3 linked regions of the Homo sapiens genome follow. The protein of the gene in region 1 interacts with the protein of each later gene in a pairwise test. Each region holds a gene or a part of one and is shown in the gene's direction. Other genes may lie near its edges.

Evidence for each region.
Region 2: the proteins of WAS (region 1) and SNX33 interact in binary tests that used the Homo sapiens proteins (3 or more experiments, as listed by UniProt).
Region 3: the proteins of WAS (region 1) and SORBS2 interact in binary tests that used the Homo sapiens proteins (3 or more experiments, as listed by UniProt).

The regions. Positions count from the first base shown.
Region 1 is NC_000023.11:48,686,799-48,691,963, forward strand, and holds the end of WAS (actin nucleation-promoting factor WAS), read left to right. Parts: coding exon 1-157; intron 158-1,255; coding exon 1,256-1,298; intron 1,299-1,501; coding exon 1,502-1,655; intron 1,656-1,861; coding exon 1,862-2,268; intron 2,269-2,521; coding exon 2,522-2,636; intron 2,637-3,351; coding exon of another isoform or gene 3,352-3,671; exon of another isoform or gene 3,672-4,308; coding exon 4,309-4,364; 3' UTR 4,365-4,629; downstream 4,630-5,165. UniProt on the Homo sapiens protein: Effector protein for Rho-type GTPases that regulates actin filament reorganization via its interaction with the Arp2/3 complex. Important for efficient actin polymerization. Possible regulator of lymphocyte and platelet function.
Region 2 is NC_000015.10:75,657,898-75,662,823, forward strand, and holds the end of SNX33 (sorting nexin-33), read left to right. Parts: 3' UTR 1-4,404; downstream 4,405-4,926. UniProt on the Homo sapiens protein: Plays a role in the reorganization of the cytoskeleton, endocytosis and cellular vesicle trafficking via its interactions with membranes, WASL, DNM1 and DNM2. Acts both during interphase and at the end of mitotic cell divisions.
Region 3 is NC_000004.12:185,613,173-185,620,208, reverse strand, and holds part of SORBS2 (sorbin and SH3 domain-containing protein 2), read left to right. Parts: intron 1-57; coding exon 58-146; intron 147-1,577; coding exon 1,578-1,624; intron 1,625-5,049; coding exon 5,050-5,164; intron 5,165-5,249; coding exon 5,250-5,378; intron 5,379-7,036. UniProt on the Homo sapiens protein: Adapter protein that plays a role in the assembling of signaling complexes, being a link between ABL kinases and actin cytoskeleton. Can form complex with ABL1 and CBL, thus promoting ubiquitination and degradation of ABL1.

The DNA.
Region 1 (5,165 bases):
TCTCCCTGGGGCTGGCGACAGTGGACATCCAGAACCCTGACATCACGAGTTCACGATACCGTGGGCTCCCAGCACCTGGACCTAGCCCAGCTGATAAGAAACGCTCAGGGAAGAAGAAGATCAGCAAAGCTGATATTGGTGCACCCAGTGGATTCAAGTGAGAGCCACTCCCCAGTGGACCCACAGATTCCTGGGGGCAGAGGGGCACATGAACAAGTGGACAGCTGAGTGAATGGAAGGATGGGCAGATGGGCAGATGGCTGGGTGGCTGAGTGGGTAAATGGGTGGTTGGATAGGTAGGTGCAGGGCTGGGTCTAGGGAGAGGTAAATAAGGCACCAAGGGTACAAAATTTAAGGAGGCACTCACTCTCAGAGGCATGCAACTGTAATTCCTGACTCTCAGAGTGAGTGACTCACTTAAATTTTGCACCCTAGGCACCTTACTTGCCTCACCCTGGGCCCACTCTGGGTGGGCTGTTAGGAGAGCAGGTGGGTGGGCAGGTGAACAAATGGATAGATAGATGAGGTAGATGATGGATGAGAAGGGCTGGTGGGTAGGTGGGTGAGTGGATGGGTGGATGGATGGATAAATGAATGGATGAATGAATGGGTTGAAGAATGAATGGATAAGTGGTTGGATGGACAAGTTTATGGGTGGATGGGTTGATGGGAGGTGCGTGGATAGATAGATGGGTGAGTGGATAGGTGTGTGGACAGATTGATATGCAGGCTGATTGGCTCACAGACAAGGTGGATGGGGATGGACAGGTGGACAGATACGTGGATGAATGGACAGTTCAATGGATAAGTGAACAGAAGTGTGTGGTTGCATGGGTAGAAAAATGAGTGGATGGATAGATGGAAAGGTGGGCACATGGGTAGGTGGATGGGTGGATGGACAAGTGTGTGTGAGGACAGACTGGTGGACAAATGGGTGAACAGACATATGTGGGCAGATAGTTGCAGAGACAGATGTATGGACAGATCAGTAGTCCAACAGATGAATGTGAATGAATAGGTGGACAAATGCATGGGATAGATGGGGAAAGAGGGATGGGTGGATGGATCAGCACCACAAACTATGGAGCCCTTCTAATTCCATAACTCCTGCCTATACTCATTCACTCATTCAGTCTCATTCATTAATTCTGGCCCCTCAGAGTCTCTTTGGGCAGGAGAGGGCAAGAGGGTTTCACTATGAAGGGAGGGAAGGAAGGGCAGTGAGGATTCACTGGAGTCTCTTCACCTCTCCCAGGCATGTCAGCCACGTGGGGTGGGACCCCCAGAATGGATTTGACGTGAGTAACTTCAGAGTCTCTTGGACTCCACTAAACTTCCACCCACCCTTCCAAAGACCACTGCTGAGACCCCACCCCCAGATCGTGCCCTTCCCACACCCCTCTCAGATCCCTTGCTGGGATGGACCCAACGACAATCCATGTCGCTTGTCTCCTCGCCTTATTCCTCTACTCCTGCCCCTGGCCTTTTTCCTCCTGGGCAGGTGAACAACCTCGACCCAGATCTGCGGAGTCTGTTCTCCAGGGCAGGAATCAGCGAGGCCCAGCTCACCGACGCCGAGACCTCTAAACTTATCTACGACTTCATTGAGGACCAGGGTGGGCTGGAGGCTGTGCGGCAGGAGATGAGGCGCCAGGGTGAGACCCTGCTTCCATACGCTCCCTTCTCTAGCCCAAGCAGCTCATAGCTAAGATACGCACTAAGTCACTCAGTCCTTATGGGAGCACCTATACTGCTTCAGTCAGGAGTTGGTCAGTGGGGGTACCCATTTTACAAATGAGCAAAACTGAGGCTCAGAAGAAATCAATGAGAGTTACAGCTATGTGTTATACCCCCTCCACAGAGCCACTTCCGCCGCCCCCACCGCCATCTCGAGGAGGGAACCAGCTCCCCCGGCCCCCTATTGTGGGGGGTAACAAGGGTCGTTCTGGTCCACTGCCCCCTGTACCTTTGGGGATTGCCCCACCCCCACCAACACCCCGGGGACCCCCACCCCCAGGCCGAGGGGGCCCTCCACCACCACCCCCTCCAGCTACTGGACGTTCTGGACCACTGCCCCCTCCACCCCCTGGAGCTGGTGGGCCACCCATGCCACCACCACCGCCACCACCGCCACCGCCGCCCAGCTCCGGGAATGGACCAGCCCCTCCCCCACTCCCTCCTGCTCTGGTGCCTGCCGGGGGCCTGGCCCCTGGTGGGGGTCGGGGAGCGCTTTTGGATCAAATCCGGCAGGGAATTCAGCTGAACAAGGTGAGGACAGGCAGGATGGAGGATTGGGGGTCTAGGACTCTGGGGTGTCCCGTCTAAGTCAGGATACTGGGGGGCTGAGGCCAGGACTGAGGAGAGTGCCAGGCCTTAGGGATTCAGTGATAGGGTTGAAAGGTTGGTGGGAAGCCTTGAAGGGGACTGGAGTGTGTGGGAGAGAAAATATTGATGGAGGGGCGGGGAGAAATGCTCCTTTCCCAGGCCCTAAGCCCTCTGTGCTGATCCCTGCCTGCTGCAGACCCCTGGGGCCCCAGAGAGCTCAGCGCTGCAGCCACCACCTCAGAGCTCAGAGGGACTGGTGGGGGCCCTGATGCACGTGATGCAGAAGAGAAGCAGAGCCATCCACTCCTCCGGTGAGCTGATCCTGCCGGGGCCTCAAACCTGGCTCCCAGGGCTAGCACTGGCCTCAAAACAATCCCAGCAGTCACCACCAATAGTGACATCAGCCCCATCTGTTTGACAGCATTAACATGAATCTTGTGTCAGCCTCGTTTTTGACAATGTTAACATTAAGTCATTATGTGACAATAATATAATTAACTCCAACTTTGACAGTAATATTAACATTAATGCCAGGGTGTGTCCACAATATTAATGTCATTCCCACATGTTCAGTACTATTAACATCAGCTGGCCGGCGCGGTGGCTCATGCCTGTAATCCAGGAACTTTGGGAGGCTAAGGCAGGAGGATCACTTGAGCCCAGGAGTTCGAGACCAGCCTGGGCAATATAGTGAGACCTCGTTTCCATAAAAACTAAATTCAAAAAAAGTAGTCAAGCATAGTGGTGTGTGCCTGTGGTCCCAGCTACTTGGGAGGCTGAGGTGGGAGGATTGCTTGACCCTGGGAGGTCAAGGCAGCAGTGATCCATGATTGTGCCACTGCACTCCAGCCTGGGTGACAGAGATCCTATCTCAAAAAAAAAAAAAATTAACCCATTATGTGATGACAATATTATGAAGAACACTATTGTTGACAATATTAATTTTAATTCCATGTATTAACAGATTTACATTAATTCATTATGACGTAACCTAATCTAATCTTTTAAAAAATTTTTTTGAAACAGGGTCTCGCTCTGTGTCCCAGGCTGGAGTACAGTGGTGCAATCATGGCTCAGTGCAGCCTCAACCTCCCAGGCTCAAGCGATCCTCCCGCCTCAGCTCCCAAAGTAGCTGGGACTACAGGCGTGTGCCACCATACCTGGCTAATTTTTGGTGTTTTTTTGGTAGTGATGAGCTCTCACTACCAAGCTCTCACTACTCTCATGTTGCCCAGGCTGCTCTGCAACTCCAGGGCTCAAGCGATCTGCCCCGCCTCAGCCTCCCAGAGTGCTGGGATTACAGGCATGAGCCACCAGGCCTGGCTGTTAACCTAATCTTTTTATAATAATGTTACTATTACTCTCTTAATCTGTCAGCAATACTGTCACTAATCCATTATATGATGCAAATATTAGTATCAACCTACTATAGGAACTTCATCTTTCGACAATGATTTTTTTTTTCTTTTGAGACGGAGTCTTGCTCTGTCACCCAGGCTGGAGTGCAGTGGCGCGATCTTGGCTAACTGCAGACTCTGCCTCCTGGGTTCAAGCGATTCTCCTGCCTCAGCCTTCCGAGTAGCTGGGACTACAGGCACGCCACTACGCCCAGCTAATTTTGATGTTATTGTCATTAACCCCATTATGTGTCAAAAATATTAGCGTTAACCAGACAGGAAGCAATAATATATTATCACACCTTTGCTAATATTATTTAAATTCACCCTATTATGTGATAAATAGGTTAACATTAACCCTTTGTTTGACAATATCTCGACTAACCACATTTTTGACAGCATAAACTTCAACTCCAACTAGAACTCAGACCCCAACTATAATCCCTTTCTTGTCCCAAATGGAAACTCTAACTTGCCCTCCTCTAGCATGAGACCTCAGAACCCCAGGGTCCAGTCCTCACCTCCCAGGCCCTATGAAGCCCCCCACCAACCTCCCAGGGCATCTTATCTTTCTCTTTCCCTCCAGACGAAGGGGAGGACCAGGCTGGCGATGAAGATGAAGATGATGAATGGGATGACTGAGTGGCTGAGTTACTTGCTGCCCTGTGCTCCTCCCCGCAGGACATGGCTCCCCCTCCACCTGCTCTGTGCCCACCCTCCACTCTCCTCTTCCAGGCCCCCAACCCCCCATTTCTTCCCCACCAACCCCTCCAATGCTGTTATCCCTGCCTGGTCCTCACACTCACCCAACAATCCCAAGGCCCTTTTTATACAAAAATTCTCAGTTCTCTTCACTCAAGGATTTTTAAAGAAAAATAAAAGAATTGTCTTTCTGTCTCTCTATAAATCTCAGTCTGTTTACATTCCAAATGTGGGAATGGGGTCCCTTTCCCCCAAAGTCCCTTTTATTCATTTATCCCATTTTATTTATTTAGCCTTACATGTATATATTCATTCATTCATTTATTCCCTCAGTCATTTAGCCTGTATTTCTTTGTTTCCTTCTGCCCCTCTGTCTTTCAACATTTATTGTCAGGTACTATTTTAGGGGCTAGGAATCAAGAAGTGGGAAAAAAAACAGACAAGAATTCCTGCCCTTAGGGGGTGAAATCCACATTCTAGGGGAAGAGACAGACAAGAAACAAGAAATCAAATAGAAATAAAAGATAGCTGCAGATCATGATAAATGCTGTGGAGTGGTAAGGCAGAGATACAGATGAAACAACATTCAGATGGAGCAGTCAGGGATGGTCACTTGGAGTAGGTGATGGTGGTGCTGGACCTAAAGAGAGAGAAATGTCGGCCCAGTTAATATTTGGGGAAAAGGGGTTCCAGGCTGAGGGAGCAGCCAGTGCAAAGGCCCTGAGGTGAGAAAAGGCTTGG
Region 2 (4,926 bases), on another chromosome or scaffold:
CTTACTTTCCAAGCAAGTTAGGTACGCTTTCCATGGGGATTCTGGCCTGTGTGGTAGGAAGGGATCTCCCTTGCTCCCATGTTGCTGGCTGTCCGTACATCACCCTGTCCCCTGCAGGAGGGGGCTACAGGCCATCTCCCTCCTGTAGGCCTCTGACTCCCCTCCACTTTTGGGCCCTCAGCTTATCTCGGGCAGGGGACCATTGCAGCATCCTCCCCTCCTCGGACTCAAGGTGCTGAGGTATAAGCCCTGGGCCCCAGATCCCTGGTGACACCTTCCTGGAGAAGACTCTCAAAAGTGACTGTATATTTGAGTTCACCAGCAATAACTCCCCACACTCGAAGCAGGTCCAAACCCAGGATCTCAGGGTCCTTGGGCTCTGTGGCACTGTCTTCCCAAGATCCTTCCTGTTGCACAATGGGAAACCTAAGAGGAAAAAGACAGGGGCCTGCTTGCCCAGCCATGCGAGGGATTCCATGCCCACCTGCCCTCTGTCTGCCTCGCTGGAATGTGGGCCCCTGCTCCCCGTCAGGTTGTGCTGTCTCTGACCTATGTTTACATCCCCGAGGGGTTTCTGCCTCCTCCCCACCCAGGTCAGGGTGTGGTCCAGCAGCTTGCTGTGGGGTGCTGACATGTGTCACCACTGCCCCCCTTGCCCCCGGGGGGGTCATGGTCTCCTCCTGGATGCTGCTCCTTGAATCTTTTTTCTTGATAAACCTTTTACAATTAAGATAACACAAGCATGACTTTTTCTGTTTGGATCCCAGAAAGGCGGAGGGCAGGAGAAGGATAGAGCCCTAATTGCTCCTGAGAGCCATTGGATGAGATTCTGAGGTCGTGGTGGGCACAAATTTTCCACAGAACCTCAAAAGTTCAGGGGAGGGCTATGCTGGTGGAAGGTGCCAGCAGGCAGGAGGAGCTAGAGGCGGCTGTGGACCCCTGGGTGGATCCATCCCTCCCTAGAACGCACTCTTGTCTCTAAAACAGGTGGAGTGCTGCCCAGGGGACTGGCTGTACTGCCTTGTGATCTGGGGCTGAGGGTTGTATGAGGAAGGGACAGGACGCTGTGCCCTAGGACAATTAATAGATGGTGGCTCCTCTCCCCAAGGAGCCATGCCCTGGCCTTGCCCTTGAAAAGCCCTAGTCCAGGGGAGGGAAGTGGGGGACTCAGAAGCTGTGTCTCTTCCCCAAACCGTCCTGGGTACCCAGCCCTGCGGAGGCTCCCACATTGGAAACTGAAGAGGACGCTGGCTGTTGGGGGTGCCCTGATCAGGATGAGCGGACCTTGCTCTTGGATCTGTTCATCCACAGATGAGAGGAGGGTACTGGTTGAGACTTGGCTCTCCTTTGGAGGCAATGGGGACTTGGTGGAGGGAGGGCTTCCAGGGTCAAGGCCGTCAGGGAAGGTTGGCTAGACCAGGGACCAGGGAGCTTGTGCAGGAAGATGGAGAAGGGCCAGCAGGTGCGGTGGGGGAAGGGGCGGGCAGGACTCCCTGTTCAGGGCATAGCGTCCTCAGAGGAACTTCTGGAATGGGTCCCCCTGGCCCTTGGTCAACATTAGGTCAGATTTGGGACTTTCTGAGGAATTTTCCCCTCTCTCCACCCTGCCCCATTTTCTAACCCATCCGAGGAACTTCCCGCCCTTAACCTCTTCTCAGCTCTGCCATCCATGTAGCCATCTGCAGAAGGGGCTCTGAGCAGTGGGGGCTGGGCCAGGCCGAGGCAGGGCTGGTGGGAATGCTCCTCCTAACCCATGGTGCCTGGAAAGTCCCCTGCTCATGCTTCCTGCTCTGGGAACAGTGTTGTCCTCTGTGTGCCTTCCTTGAGAGGGGACCACCTCCCAGGCCTTCCATCCTCAGGGTGAGGCCATCAGTCTGATACTTTTCTCAGGAGGGACTTGGATCCAGGAGAAGCATCAGGAAGTGGAGTCTTGGGATAATGCCAGGCCTGCTCCTGGTATCCTGAGGTCTCTGGGCTGGGGCAGGTGTGTGTGTGGCAGGGAGGGAGGCTGTCCTGGCCCTCCTCTCTCTTTTCTTTCTGCCTCTATGGGGGTGGGGGTATTGGGGGAACTTGGGGCCGTTCTGGGGTAGCTAAGCCCCTTTCAGCAGGAGATTGGGGGACCAGTGTTGGGGGCATCCTGGTGATGGCCGATTCCTGCCTCGTCACATGCCAGGCAGATGTTCCCGACTCGGCTGGACCCAGCTGCCTCGTTTCCTCCCTTACTTTGCTCTGAGGGGGTGGAAAACAAGGCTTCTCTTTCTGCCCTGGACAGCTACCAGCACCCGGGGTAGGGGATCCCCTGGTCACCAGTCTTGGCCCAGTACAGGAAAAGGAATCCGCTTTGTGGCCACAGATGGGGGCTGGGGATGGAAGCAGACCTCAGATCCTGCATCTCTTCACCCGCTGGACACAGGAGGGCTATGAACCACTGTGCCGTGGCTGCACCACTGGCTGGAGCAGAGCCAGGCCTGGGAGAGGCAGGTGGCCCCATCGGCCCCTGCTCTGCACCACCCCTCCCAGATGACAGAGCCATATGTCTTCCACGTGTCTACACACTCACAGACTCACGAATGTAATCGCTCAGTCTCACAACAAGCACACGCAGTCACACACCTGCCCACAGGCACATACGCCACATAAGCATGCCTGTATGCTCACACAGTCATACTGCCACACGCTATTACACATTCACAGCCACAGCCACACATGCCTTGCCATCCATTCAAAGCACCAGTGGCTACTTTGTCAGACACAGCCACACCACAGTCCTATGCACATGGTCATAGCCTCACACAGTGACACATACTCGGGCACACACCGCCACAAAGCCATGCTTGCACAGAGCAAAGGTGTCATAAGCATCTCTGTGCCTGGACTGCACCTGCATGACCTCCCAGGGTCCCCACCTCATCAGAGATTAAGGAGAGCTTTGCTTGGAGACACCACCCCTGGAGGGGGTGTCTCCAAGGGGGAGTAGAGCCAGTCACAAGCACCACATACAGGCACACAGCCTGAGGTCTAGGGATGCAATTGGGATGACTGGATACCACCAAGTTCAGCTCCTTATTGAACAGATGGGCGCCTGAGGCCCAGGGAGCAGTGGTGGCTGGCCTTATCACCCAGCAGGGCAGGGGATACTCTGGGGCCAGAGCCTGGCTCTGGGCAGACTCTGTTTCCTGGCCCTGCCCTCCCCTGGGCCAATCCTCTGGGCCAGGCTGCCTCTGAAGGCCCCTGGCTGAACCGATCCAGCAGAGCTCCAGGCAGCTCCCTTCTCAAGCTAGAGCTGAGCTGCAGTGGCCACGGGAGCCGGAGCCAGGATGCGGTGGGCAGGGCCTAGGCCTGGGCGGGAGGAACATTCCTGCACCATCTCCTCCCCAAGCATGTGAGGACCCAGCCCGCCCTGCCCGCCTGCCCGCTGACTCAGGCCTCCAGGAGCCAAGCCTGCTCAGCTCCCCCACCCACCCTAACCTGCTTCCCCACTAGTTCGGCTCTGGTTCCCCTCTCCACTGGCTGGGGCAGGAGAAGACGGTGAGCCCTGGTAGGAAGACCATGGGGAAAAATCAAACCTCACCACCCCCCGACATAGCTCAGAAGGGCTGATTGTGAAACCCAGCTCTGTTCAACATAGTTGAACACAAACTTTTTTTTTCTTTTGGTTTGGTTTTGTTTTGTTGGTCAAACCCCAGTGCAGTGCAGTCTGTTTAAGAAGTAGTGTCGCATAGCTGTGGCCTGGATCTGCTCAGCAGCCCCAGTAGGCAGCATTTATTCCCTTTCGCAACAAAGAGACTGAGACTTGGCCAGAGGGAAGATGGGACCTGCCTAGGTTCACACAGGGAATCTCTGGCGGGGCTGGACTCAAACCCAGCTCCCTGCCATCACTCCTTAGAGTCACACTGATGAACTCATTTAGGGCCAAAGGAAGAAGGGGAGGCAGATTTCCCCTCTAGATGAGTGAAGGGATAGGAGGCTGGTGAACCCAACGGCTGAAATGTGAAGGGTGAGAGGGTAGGGTGAGTCCCCCCAGCCCTGAGGGATGAAGGGTCTGAAGATGGCACTGCACGGTGACAGCTGCAGTGACTCAGGAGCTCCGTTTACAAAGGAACATGAGTGAGGAACATAACTTAATTTTTTTTTATATCTGACCTGAATTTCTGTTTTCCTCCCCCATTCCCCACATGGTAGAAGTGTAATCTCACATCAATTTGGGGACCCTTTCTTTCCCCAGGGATGTGTAGAACTTTTGGGGATGGCACATTTGAAGACCTTAGGGAGCTTTGCATTTTAAAGGCTGAATCCCACACTCTATCATACATATTAATATTTACCTGCATTCCACATTAAAGGGTTCAGTTTATGACTTGTGTCCTGTCTTGTAGATACTTAATTAAACGGTATTAATTTTGATTTTGCCCCTTTCTGTTGGTGCTCTGCTCTCTTCCCTCCTCCCCGCCCTGCCCACCCAGCAGCACACATTGTTACGGGTTGCTTCTTGCAGAACTCCTGGACCTGGATGCTGCCATTGGGCCTGCGATGCCCGCCATGGTCCTGGTCAGCATTGGGCCCTCCGATCATCTTGCCCTGCCTCCTGCCTTTCCCCTGCATGCTCCCTTGATGCCCATCCTGAGTCTCTGTGTGTCTGGCTCTTCTCTGCTCTTGGGCACTCAGGGCTCCTTCCATTTGCCCTGTACTAAGGGGCTGATAGAGGTCCTTTCTGTGGCCTGTGGCCCCCTCTGGGGCCTGTGGTCATCATTCCACAGCTCCCACTTCGCAGTCAAGCACAGGGAGCTCTGGGGTGCCGCTTAGACACCCCATGCCACCCTGTTTCTTCTGGGATCTGGCTCCTTTCTTGGGGTTCTACCTGGGATGGGGGTATGAGTCCCACTGCTTCGGAATCTCCCAGCCTCTGGGGATTCTACTATCTCCCAG
Region 3 (7,036 bases), on another chromosome or scaffold:
AGGTTGGCTTGTAATTAAGTGGATACTCACCATGACTGGCCCTGTTCTTTCCAATAGACCGTGAGTCCCCTAGAAGTTACTCATCCACTTTGACTGACATGGGGAGAAGTGCACCAAGGGAAAGAAGAGGAACTCCAGAAAAAGAGGTAGTTAATTTAATAGCATTGGAGTCTTTCACAGCAACACACTTGATACAGCACTTACCAGCCAAAAATTATCCCAAACCAGTAACGAACTCGGACAGGAAATGTGAAAATACTGAGAAACTAGAAACAATTTTCCTTGGGGCCTGAGCATAGCAACTCTGACCCTAGAAGCAGTCCACACCCTGACCCTAGCTGTGGGTCTTCCCTAGTGGTGGCCCAGTTTTGGCCATGAGGCTTCTCCGAGTCTTGACCTGATGCCCATGAACTTAACCATTATGACCTAAAAGTGTCCTGAGTTAGGGCACCTCGTGGAGGCAATAGGTTTCCTCTACAATTTCTTGGCCCGCTGGTCCAGGAGAAAGCCTGATGTCAACTGTGTTGTAAATCAATACAGAGCCTACAGAAATCATTTTTGCTGGCTTCCTTTTATTGGAGAGGATCCCTAAAAAGAGCTTTTAACCAGCCCAGTTCTCGGGATACTGCCCCTGGGAACCACCCACCAACTGAACTCTGTCCAGGGCCCTGAGCCGGGGCTAGAGTTCTTGCTCAAACTGCCTTGGAGCCATGACGGCTGGATGGAAACTAAAAGCTGGACTTGGACTGGTAGCCGCTCCAGAGGATCTTATAGGCGTCTGATGTAGTCCAGAGCCTGTGGGATCCCCAAAGAAGTTAGAAATGGTCCAGGATTCCTAAAGTTCACCAGAGTCATGGGGGAAAAGAATGGAGTGAAGGGATTGTTGGTTGGTGAGGAAGGAAGAGCTGGCCTAGCTAGCTATAGGGTACAGGGTACCTCAGGGAGATCTGTGGCCCCCAGAGTTTGAGGATGGGCACGTGTCACATCACATCACAACTAAAAGACGAGTGGCTGGTGGACAGAGTGTTGAAGGATTCCTGAGCCCTCTAGGGAATGCAAGATGATCACACCTATACTTTTGCCCACTAACCAGCCTCCCAGTGATAATTGAGCTAATATTTTTTGCTAATATGTTAATAAGTGTCTAATGAAGGGAATGATTACTTCTTTTATGACATCTGGTCCTTTTATTATGATTCAGAGGGAGCTGTGTCAATCTCCATAGAACATAGAGCCATTGACCCTCCACATTTATCCTAGGAAGAGCCTTTGTAACAGCCAAAATGATGCCTAGGATGCAAACCTCTGCAGGCATTTTATTCTCTCATTATAACATTAATCTACCTTAGTTCCTAAGATTAAATATGATGGTGAATAAGCCTTCTATTATATTCCTATTATAGCTTAAATATCTAAATGAAGAATGAATGGACTTATTTATAAATTGCTTACAGGATTAACATTACATATGTTTGATGATTCCCTGAGGTTTCCTTTTTCTTTAAGGCACATTAAACTACTTTCTTGTAGAAAATTCAAATTTTAAATTAGTGCTAATTGTTTATCTTCCTTTTCAGAAATTGCCTGCAAAAGCTGTTTATGATTTTAAGGCTCAGACATCTAAGTAAGTAAGATAAATACTCATCATATGATTTAAGGTGGTTTTAAATGTTAGTAATGCTTTAAGAGATAAGCATTGCAGTAGGATCTGTTACAAATGAGGTCTAATTCCCAATGCAGCAATCTACTCTAATTAAATGGTTCCTTCAGAATTACCTTTTATTTTAAGTTTAGTTGAGAATTACTGAGTTTTAAATTACATTAAACATGTTAGGTAGAACACAATGAATTCTAAAGGATAGGAAAAACAAAAAGAATTTAGGAATATTTGTTTTTAGAATTTTGTGTCAATAATGAATTAATGAAGTATTGGGGGCCAGGCACAGTGGCTCATGCCTGTAATCCCAGCACTTTGGGAGGCCAAGGCAGGCAGATGGCTTGAGCCCAGGAGTTCAAAACCAGCCTGGGCAACATGGCAAAACCATGTCTCTACAAAAAATACAAAAATTAGCTAGGCATGGGGGCATACACCTGTATAGTCCCAGCTACTCAGGAGGCTGAGGCAAAAGGATCGCTTCACCGGGAGGTAGACGCTGCCATAAGCTGAGGTTGCGCCACTGCACTCTAGCCTGGGCAACAGAGCAGGACCCTGTCTCAAAAAAAAGAATGAATAAGTAAATAAATAAAGTATTGGGGAGTAATTAACACTAGCTGGGGGAATTTGATAACATTTATTTATCCAAATATTCCAAGCATAGTTTGTGGGGTTGATGACTAGAACTTAGTACAAAGATTCCTGTATTGAAGTCTCCATCCTCAGCCTGCAAAGCTCAGAGATTCTGAGCAAAGTTTTCTCCTTTGGTCTTTTGGTGTCGGTGTTTTCACCATCCTGAATTGCAATATTTCTTTTGCCTTTATTCTTTGCTCAGCAGATAGGCATGTGGTTGCGGAAGCACATAAGCAGACTTATATATAAGAGGGTGTTGCCCAGATTTTTTGTGGCCTATGTGCACAGACCTTTAAGAAACTTTGTTCTCCAGTAGAATTCAAGACAGATATTGAATTCATTGTAAATTGTCATTAAATTATTATATGTTGTTTACACTGAATATATATATATATAATAACCAAAATAATTTACTCATAAAAATGCATATAATATGAGTTAATAGCTCTAGAAACTGTCTCTGGCAGAAGACATATATAAATAAATCACTCAGAATTTGGTAATGCTGCTGAGATAGGAAATGAACTAGATAAGAAAAATCCTGTTTAGAAATTAAGATGTTGAACATGGCTTAAATCTGGCCTGAAGAAAAGCTTACATCTTTTTTTTTCAAATTAGAGAAATAAGATGCTTTGTTTCTACTGTACTCCGGTCCTAACTACTGTTCTGTGGATATGGTGTGACAATTTGTACAATGCATATCAGTTTTATAAAATAATGTTACGGAGCACACGTTTCATTTCTTCTTTGTAAAAATCAATCCATAGCTTTCTTAAATATATAAAAACCTGAGGAATGGCAGGGGATGTGAAGTAGGAAGGGTGTCCACCCAAGGCTCACGAGGTCTTCTGAGAAGTCTTAATTTTAAAAAGCAGCTGGGCACGGTGGCTCATGCCTGTAATCCCAGCACTTTGGGAGGCCAAGGCAGATGGATCACTCGAGGTCAGAAGTTCGAGACCAGCCTGGCCAACATGGTGAAACCCCGTCTCTACTGAAAATACAAAAATTAGCCAGGGGTGGTGGTGGGTGCCTGTAATCCCAGCTACTCAGGAGGCTGAGGTGGGAGAATCACTTGAACCTGGGAGGTGAAGGTTGCAGTGAGCCAAGATCACACCACTGCACTCCAGCCTGGGTGACAGAGCAAGACTCCATCTCAAAAACAAATAAAAATAAAAGTGAGGGGAAAAAAGCAAATGGGACTTTAAAATTCTAGGTCTGAGATGAGAGGGACACAGTTTTGAAAACTTAAGAGTAAGACTTTCCTGTGTCTTAAGGACTTCAAAATTTTAAATGCAACCTATACAAATACAAAAGAGTCTTTTTCATAGCTTTGAAAAATTGGTTGCCTCTGATTCATATGTTCATATTATATTTTAAAAAGCTAGTCTCATTTCCAGAAACAAAACATACCTAGTACAAATGAAACTGTTGTGTTGTGAACATTAAATATCTTGCTTTGCTTTGTTTTCTGTTTTTTACATTAGGCATTTGCACAAAAGAAGGAAGCACTGTATTTGAATGTAAAGCTCCATGAATCTTCTTTGTTTTTAGGGTTACTGAAAATTTAACACATTTTCAATTGTGAAGATTTTAGCACTTCTAAATGTGTGATCATTCTTTTAATATACCACCATTTTTTCGATTAATTCTTTTAATCAATGAGAAGTGTTCTCCATCAGGTATAAATCTCTCTCCATCAAACGGCCTATACTAATAAATGATCCAACTGAAAATTCTGAACCAAAATTTTTTAAAAAAAGATTAAAAAATGAAAATTCTGAACAAAACAATGCAGAAGATTCCAGAGTGGGAGGGCAGATGTATTGCAAAATGAGGCTCTTGGGAGAAGATACAAATTAATCGCCCTCCATCCAAGAATAATTGCGGAGGCAAAATAATGAACCAACCTAATCACCTGGGTGATTAAGCCAGGAAAAATTGATGTAGTGAAGGTGATAAGTTTAGGTGTGAATTATTCAAAATGCATAATGTCATTATAACTTAAAATTATAAATACCCAAATCAAATATACCTACAATTTTCTTAGAAACAGCCAAAATTGAAAAATATAGTGTCTTAAAAATATTTTTATTTTTTGTAAATAAAAGATAGAAAGGCAAGCATTGGCATATGTCTTTGCACTTAAAACACATTCTTCTTGCCCCACTGAAAATTAAAAGTGTAAGATCTTTTCTGTTACACAAAATAAATTCCTTATCAAGATATTCTATTAAAATACCTGTCAACCAACTTCAAAGATCCACAAATAAAATTTGTTCTGGTGTTGGCACTTCTATTCTGAGGCTACATGATATTTGTTTTCCTTCATGTAAGCTTCAGTACATCAAAAGGGGCTGGGGGGCTAGTAACTAACTAGCCAACTAGCTTCAGGACAAAAAAAAAAAAAATCAGTGCAGAACTATTCCATCATTTTTCCAAGCTTCAAAATGCCTCTTCTCTGAACTAATGGTAAAGTAGCAAGAGTCTGTCCCCTCCTTTAAACTTCTTATTAATCTGTCTGTGATTTATATCCAATGGAATGTTTATACTTACTCTGTTTGAAATCATTTCTAAAGTTATAATGTTTTAAGTGCATTCTAAGAATTTGCAAGGATCATTCTTATCTAATCGGACTCAATATCAATTGGATTTTTTAATATTGTAAGTATATTTGCCAAACAAATGCAGATCTAGCGAGGGTGTTGATCTTGAGAATTATTGCTGTACATCACAAAAAGACCATGTCAACGTGTCTCTTCCAGGGAGTTGTCATTTAAGAAAGGAGATACTGTCTACATCCTCAGGAAAATTGATCAAAATTGGTATGAGGGAGAACACCACGGGAGAGTGGGCATCTTCCCGATCTCATACGTAGAGGTAGGTCCTCTCCCTTTCTCTCTTGGATGGCGGTGGTTTCAAAGGTCACCGCAGATTTGAGAATAAATGACTATTTCCTTCATAGAAACTCACACCTCCTGAGAAAGCACAGCCTGCAAGACCACCTCCGCCAGCCCAGCCCGGAGAAATCGGAGAAGCTATAGCCAAATACAACTTCAACGCAGACACAAATGTGGAGCTGTCACTGAGAAAGGTAGCCCAGCTGGTTTTTTGTTTGTTTGTTTTTGTTTGTTTGTTCTTCAGTGGGTTTGAAAAGGCTGTATATTTTCAAAACTAAAATAGGTTATCTTTTTCTTTAGACATTTTTATGTTTACCCTATTTTCTACAAAGGACTCTTTAAGGCAGCCCAGAGTCACGGTTCCCTGCTGGTCCCTGTGTCCTTTTAGAGGAGTTCCCCGTGGGATACCAGGCTTCTCCCTCTGTGGCTTAGTCTGGGAAGCCGGGCATGGGGCTGAAAATCAAGGACTTATACATTCGGGAGCACAAAAGGAAAAAGCAGTTTGATACACTTCAAAATATGTTGTTTTGCTGCCTTATTTTTCAGTCTTTTAAAAACAAGATATTCCAATCCTTATCTTCCTCTATCTTGGAATCTAGGAATGGTCCTAGGTAAAGAAGATCCTTCCTCTTGGGGGAGCCGCTTTAAGAGCCATCTCTGCAGTGCTCTTCCCTGGATCATCCTTCTTTGGGCCTCATAATTGACCCAAATTTCTCTAGCAGCCCATCCAATCCTAGTATCTCTTCTTAATAATATCAAAAGCCTCGAGGCCGGGCATGGTGGCTCACGCCTGTAATCCCAGCACTTTGGGAGGCCAAGGCAGGTGAGCGAGATTCCATCTCAAAAAAAAAAAAAAAAAAAAAAACACAAAAAAACAATCAAAAACCTCTTTTAACCTGCTAGTTTACATAATTGAGAATGATAAATGAATTATTCTTATTGCTTTCTAAATATGACATATATTTGTTTGAGGTAACTGCCTCTGCACACAACACAGGCGAGGTAGTAATATTTAGAGTGGCTCTAGGACCTCCCACACCTACTAGTGAAATCCTTAGCCAGGTGCGATGAAGAGCAATACCACAGTCCTGGTTTGTTCTGGTCCTGGCAGAACCTTGTCTCATTCTCTCCCATCAGTCTTAATTCTGCATCATCAGCCGATTCCTTCTTTCCTATCCTCTGGGCTGCCCCACCTAGCATGAGAACCACAGAGCATTACATGAACTCTGTCTCCTGTTCCATGTTCTACAGAAAGGCTTCACCAATGCCTCTTACAGCTCACACAACAGCCTAGCAACTACCTGTTCTTGGTATACTAGAAAATCGGTGCAATTTTCAGATTTGGGGAGACTGACTTTTTTTTTTTTTTTTTTTTTTTGAGATGGAGTGTCACTCTGTCACCCAGGCTGGAGTGCAATGTGTGCTCTCAGCTCACTGCAACCTCTGCCTCCCAGGTTCAAGCGATTCTCCCACCTCAGCCTCCCGATTAGCTGGGACTACAGGTGCCCGCCACCACACCCGGCTAATTTTTGTATTTTTAGTAGAGATGGGGTTTCACTATGTTGGCCAGGCTGGTCTCGAACTCCTGACCTCATGATCCGCCCGCCTTGGCCTCCCAAAGTGCTGGGATTACAGGCGTGAGCGATTGCATCCAGCCTGAGACTGACTTTTCTTGAGTATGTTCTGCTCAGCGGTGGTGAAGCACACAAAATCAACCATCCAGCGTTTCAACACAAAGAGAACTTCCAAGTGCTACTCAAGGTCGAAGTTCTTCTTGGGTAGCACCTGAAGAAGGGTGCCCTGTTGGGCTGAGATTAATGACTGTTTCAGCTCCATCACACCATCAGGTGCC